2 separate regions of the Homo sapiens genome follow, and region 2 is linked to region 1. Evidence: fine-mapped expression QTL. Tissue or cell type: stomach. Region 1 holds a variant in brackets; the other region holds the start of a gene. All regions are shown on one strand. Distances are between the middles of the regions.

Region 1 (2,908 bases):
CTTCCTTCACTTCTTGCATCGTTTTTTGGATTTCCTTGCATTGGGCTTTGCCTTTCTCTGATGACTCCCTGATTAGCTTAATAACTAAGCTCCTGAATTCCTTTTCAGGTAAATTTTTGGTTTGGAGCCATTGCTGATGAGCTAGTGTGATTTTTGGGGGATATTAAAAAGCCTTGTTTTGCCATATTACCAGAATTGGTTTTCTAGTTCCTTCTAATTTTGATAGGCTCTGTCAGAGGGAAAGTCTAGAACTGAAGGCTGTTCAGATTCTTTTGTCCCATGGGGTGTTCCCTTGATGTAGTACTCTTCCCCTTTTCCTATGGATGCAGCTTCCTGTGAGCTGAGCTGCAGTGATTGTTATCTCTCTTCTGAGTCTAGCCATGCAGCAAGTCTACCCGGCTCCAGGCTGGTACTTCAGGTTGTCTTCACAGAGTCCTGCGATGTGAACCGTCTATAAGTCTCTCAGCCATAGATTCCAGCACAGTATTTGGGTGTCTCCTGGGTCCTGCAGGAGCAGTCCACTTTCTTCAGATGTTCTGTGGGTCCTCTCTGGATTTCTGGTTTGTTCTCGCAGTCGTTCTGGAGCAAAATTCATGATGAGAGCCTCTGCATGCTGCTCTGAGTCGGAGCTGCAATTTAGTCCTACCTCCCGTGTGCCATCTATTTTCACTGCAATTTATTAAGATGAAATTTTATGTAAGTCATAGGAGATTGCAAACTGGGTTATGACTGTTGAGTGTTTAATACTCATAGTATTTGTGGAAGATAATGCTTCTTCTATGCTTGTAAATTTGTAATAGCATAATGGAAGTTATCCATTAAATGTTGCTAGTCTACACAACATGTATCTGGAATGTGCTTTCCTTCAGCATTCTATGATATTATAGTTGGGGGAGAGAGAAAGTGGACAGAAGGGCATCAATGAAGATGCTTGACTGCATCAAAAGCAAATGTTTTTCCCTCCAGTTCTTTTCGTTTTGTAATGCTGCATCTCATTTTATGTTTCACTGTTGTCTGAAGAGGGGGCAAAAATCATCAACTGAGAAAACAACTGAAAAAAATTCTTACGGGGAATTTTTTTATTTCAAAAATTGGTTTCCTTACTAACAAACTTTAGGTAATTTAGCTTAAACTGGGCTTAAACTTCAGGGGACCTAAAGGCATTAATCTTTTCTCCTTAAACACAGTACAAAAAGAGTTTCAATACTAGATGACCCAGAGGAAAGGTATTATATTACCCAAACCTGCAAGTATTATC[A/G]TACTTTTCAGTCATTGAGACAGTTCTTTCTTTGGTATTTTTTAAGTTAAGCCATCATATTAGAAAAAAATTTAAAACAGAATAGAAGAAGTACTATTGCCCAAAAGATCTCGCAGAGCTGACCCTTCTCCCATTCCCCACTTCTCTCCAGAGGCAACACCTGTGAGCAGTTTCTTTTCTAGAAATTGACCTGCAGGTACAATCTCATATGTGTGACTATGTTCCTACACACATACTTATATACAACGTTAACCTAAAGGCCAACTGACTCCACAGAAATTCACATTTCTTTCATTTCATACAGTCTCACATTTTCCTATTCCAAATATCTATTATAGGTTGTTAGGAAAAGTGACCAAATTAGTAATCATTGTCACAGTTTCAAAAAGGGCTAAGGAGTGACTTGGCAAAATGACTTATAATCTCATAAAAATAATTAAGCAATAATAACTGAAAGGTCATAGAACAAGAGTTTTATGTTTTAATTCTACTCCTCCTTTGTTGCCACTGCATGACAGAATCTTTGGACTTTGAGCCTTGGCAGAGTTGGACTGCTGCAGAAACCACCACAGTCTGGCATGAATTAAGTCCCACTGCAGAGGTGAACTGGAGCCAAGATTTCAATCTCCAAATGATTACTACTGGGGGAAAAAGGCTCTGGGCCATGCTGACAATGAATATCAGCTGCTTTGGGTAACTGGGACTGTTTGCACTCCTCTCCCCGCAGCCGAAAAAACCAAATTGTGGTTCTTATAGTACTGACTGGATTATTTGTGCTACATTGCTTCCCCACTGTCTTCACATCATAGAACATGTCGAAAAAAATTATTGCATTTGTAGGGCACCCGCAGTAAACCCAGGAGGCAACTTATAGGCAGAATTCACCATCCTGGAAGCTCTAGTTGAATCGTGTCCCAGTTCCTTTCAAGGGCTGAAGGTATGTCTTAGTATATAGAATTCATTCCAGGTAATAGAATTTGTAATTTGTAAATATTTGCTACTTAACACATGGTCTGTAGACCAACTTTATTGTAGCAGGACATCATCTGGGGCATTTTAGAAAAGCTGACGCTCAGGCCCCACCTGAGACCTATCTATGCTGCCCAGGCTGGAGTGCAGTGGCTATTCACAGGCATGATCATAGTGTAATACAGCCTTGAACTCCTGGGCTCAAGCACTCCTCCTGCCTCAGCCTCCTGAGTAGCTGGGACTACAGGTGCAAGCGACTGTGCCCAGCTAGCATCTATATTTTAACAAGGTCCCCAAATGAGTCATATGAGCATTAAAATTTAAGAAGTGTTGGTCTACAGGTAATGTCTACCTCCGTGGCATGCTTTAAAAGGCCTTGGAGATCTACTCCCTACCTATTTTTCCAGCCTCATCTTTGGTAACTGCCTCTTTCCGACCCAATGATAGTAAAGTATCTAACACCTGAAGGCACTGTACTCGCTACCCTAGTGCCTTTGCACAGGTGGTTCTTAGCCTAGAATTAATTCTCTTTACCTGCCCTTTTGAACTCTTATTTATCGTTCAACTCTCAATTTAAAAGCCAAGCTTCACCTGCCCCAGCAGATCTAGGCAGAGGGAGCGACCAGCCTATTATAAAGCCTTCCTTCCTCTTGCTTCCTAGTTCTGACTATGTGCCTTTAT
Region 2 (2,908 bases), 25 kb after region 1:
CTTTTCAGAACCTGTGGGAAGGAAGCCTTCCCAAGTCTAGCACCTGCGGCCACGCAACGGGCATTAATCCGGATCAGAACAGCCCAGGCATTATTACCTGGCAAAGCTTTCGTCCTCTGTTCACCTCATCTGTAAATGGAGGGTATTCCATTAGAGAAAATTGCTATAGTCCCTCAGTGTTTTTAATTCTACACTCCTTATTTAGATGCCGGATTGGAGACGAGGCTACCGCTGCAGACAGGGCTGTGGGAAGACGACGGAACTTGCCACAGCGACAGACTTCTCCCAAACAGGAAATAAAAGTGGGAAGCATTTTAAAACCTAAACGAGATGTCTCGCTACAGCTCTGTAGTCCCTACTTACCCAGCAATTTAGGGCATCTGTTCTTAAAGCCTAATACATAGGAATGAATTGTTTAGCTAGCCAGAAAGGCAGTGCGTGATCTAATAATCCTAAATTAATTTGTTCTCCGTGTGTCCTGAAAACAACACCAGAAACACACTTGGGCCGTGGCAGGTGAAATGTGCGCCGCCAGTCCTTGAGCTGGCGCGCGCCTTAACGTTCAGCAGCACTCCCCGCGGGGGTGCGGGGGTGCCGGAGCCGCTCAGGACCCTCTGTCCTGGCCCTCAGGAAGGAAAGCGTAGGCCCGGGTGGCGGGGGGTCTCTCCCTTGCCGCGGCCTTTTAACTTCAGTCCCTGGCCAGCATCCGGGAGAGGAATCTCCACCCTGCAGGCGGTCCCCGCGCTACTGGGCAAGAACGTGCGGTGACATCGCGACTTGGGGGTATAGAAGCAGAAAGCGGGATATGACTGCTCGGTGCCCAGTCAGGGACTATTAAGTTCACCCAGCAAGTGAAGCCAGAAGAGAACTGGGACAAGCCGGGCGGGGCCAGGGAACCCCAGGCCGCGCCTGGCTAGGGACCGCGGAGAGGGCGGGCGGGGTCTCACTCTGGTCGCCTCGCGCAGCTCTGCCGTGCTCGCCGCGGCCATTCAGGGAAGGTGGCTTAGGCTCGCCCTCGCCCGCACCGTCCTGTGCCGAGCCTGGAAGCGGGGCTTCGAACCGCGAGTGAAGAAAGCGCAGTGAGAGCAAACTGAAGGGCGGAATGGCAGCGCAGGGCCAGGGGCCAGGGGCCAGGGCTGCAGCCGGCTGCTCTGCTGCAGCGGAGCCTCCCCGCCCCGGCGCCGCCCTCGGCACCCGCCCACCGCTCCCCGCTGCCCTCACTTCCGTTCCTCAGAGCCCCCCAGCCTGGCATAGGGCGACGGGCGACTACCCGGGTGGGAGGGAGGGGCTGATGCGTAGGGGGAAGGTGGCGGCGGAGGGCGCCGAGTCCCAACCGCGTGCCACACCCACGCCCAGCCGAGTCCCGCTCAGCCTACCACTCAGACACCCGGCCTACCAGCCCCAGGCGGCCCCGCCTCTTTTGTGCGACTGGCGCTGTTGCCTGGGCAACGACCAGGCCACGCCCTGTCCACGCCCCGCGGTGCCCCGCCCAGGTCTCTGCGCGGCGCCGTTCCCAGCCGCAGTCCGCAGGAGCCGCTGCTGCAGCCGGCAGCTGGGCGGGATTCCCGGGGTAGTCGCTGGGAGCAAAGCTCGCTTCTCCCGCGCCTGTGCTTTTGCCTGCCCCGGCTTACTTCTCCCCGCGTCGGTCCGCTGGCCACGTACAGCTGACCAGCTCATCTTCCAGCTTCGGACCGAGGCTCCACGGCCGCCGCAGGGACCCGCCCACCAGACCCTGCGCTCGGTAGCCGGTGTGAGTGGAACGTGCCGCTGATGACACCTGGCAGAAGGCAGCCATGGAGGGCGATGGCTCAGATTCGCCGGTGAGTGCGGAGGGGACCGCCGCCCCCACCTCGAGGGCGGTGTGCCGACCGCGGCTCTTTCTCTTTCCTCCGCCGGGAGCCCGGAGGGAGCCTCCTCCCGGGAGAGCAAAGGCAGGCGTGTGGGGATCCCGCTTCCTCTTCGCCTTCTCCCGCCCGGGGCTAGGTTCCGCAATCCGGGGCGTCCCCTTTCTATCCCCGAGAGCCGGACGTGGGGTCCCCTGGGCCGGAGAAGAGCGCAAATCCGATGGTTGCCCACCTGAGCACCTCGGGGGAATCATGGAGGGTCTCTCTAATGGAGCTCAGGCTGTAGAATTAATTAGCGTTTGGGAGTCGGGTGCGGGCAGAAAGCTGGGGCGCGTCCCTCGCGCTTGCGGGGCCGCCCTTTGTCTAGGCGTCTTGACCCCCGCGGGCCCGGCCGGCTGCCGCCGCCTGGGCCAGAGGCTCCTCCCCGGCTTCGCCTGCCCGCGGGGGGCGGGCCGGGGCCCCGGCAGCTGTCAGCCTACAAGTGTTTTTGTTTAAAGGTGTCGAATGTGCAATTCTTCCGAAGTTTCTCGAGGAACTGCTTAATTGAGGGAGCCGCCACATCACACTTAATCAGTTTGTTTCTCCCTCAATGACAGATGAACTAAATTTTCTCTTGGGTAAGAAATACTTTATGTCCATTGTGATTAAAAAGTCAGATTCAAGACACTGCTTTATGTACAAGAAAATGGAAATGATTTTAGATCCTCCCCCAGTGACAAGTAAACCTGAACTGACCATATTTATACATAAAATGGAATGTAAGAACCTATTTTGGATATCCCGGACAAGATTTTCTTTTGAATTAGGTGCCAAACCCTTTGTGAAATGAGATAGGATGTGAATATTCTGTATTCTTTGATGTGAATTGTGAGGTTTAGTTATCTTATTTCCAAATCTGTGAACAGTTGGGAGGTGATATGGCTCTTCATCACATATTTGAGTGATGCAGCAAGAGACTGCATCGAAACACCCACTGACAATGATAAAACCAGTTGGCTCTAATGCAGTTAAATTGTCAGAGATTATTGAAGCACTTGGTGTCACTTTAGGGAGAATAGGTTAGC

Direction of the effects. Alleles are on the strand shown, and positions count from the first base shown. SD is a standard deviation of normalised expression in the study named.
With allele A in place of G in region 1, the expression in stomach of the gene that starts at base 1,520 in region 2 is lower (small effect, 0.20 SD a copy in GTEx).

The links. PIP is the estimated chance that this variant, and not a neighbour inherited with it, causes the effect.
Region 2: it holds the start of TRIM36, and the variant in region 1 is fine-mapped to the expression of TRIM36 in stomach (GTEx, PIP above 0.99).

The regions. Positions count from the first base shown.
Region 1 is chr5:115,193,805-115,196,712 of GRCh38, reverse strand. No RefSeq gene overlaps it. Among named protein-coding and RNA genes, the nearest start is that of TRIM36, 25 kb to the right of the region's middle. The variant A/G (reference allele first, on the strand shown) is at 1,259.
Region 2 is chr5:115,168,520-115,171,427 of GRCh38, reverse strand. It overlaps TRIM36 (tripartite motif containing 36), which reads left to right and starts at 1,520. Exons shown (of 10, transcript NM_001300759.2): 1 at 1,520-1,820. The coding sequence starts at 1,794. RefSeq lists silencers at 1,105-1,524, 2,255-2,344.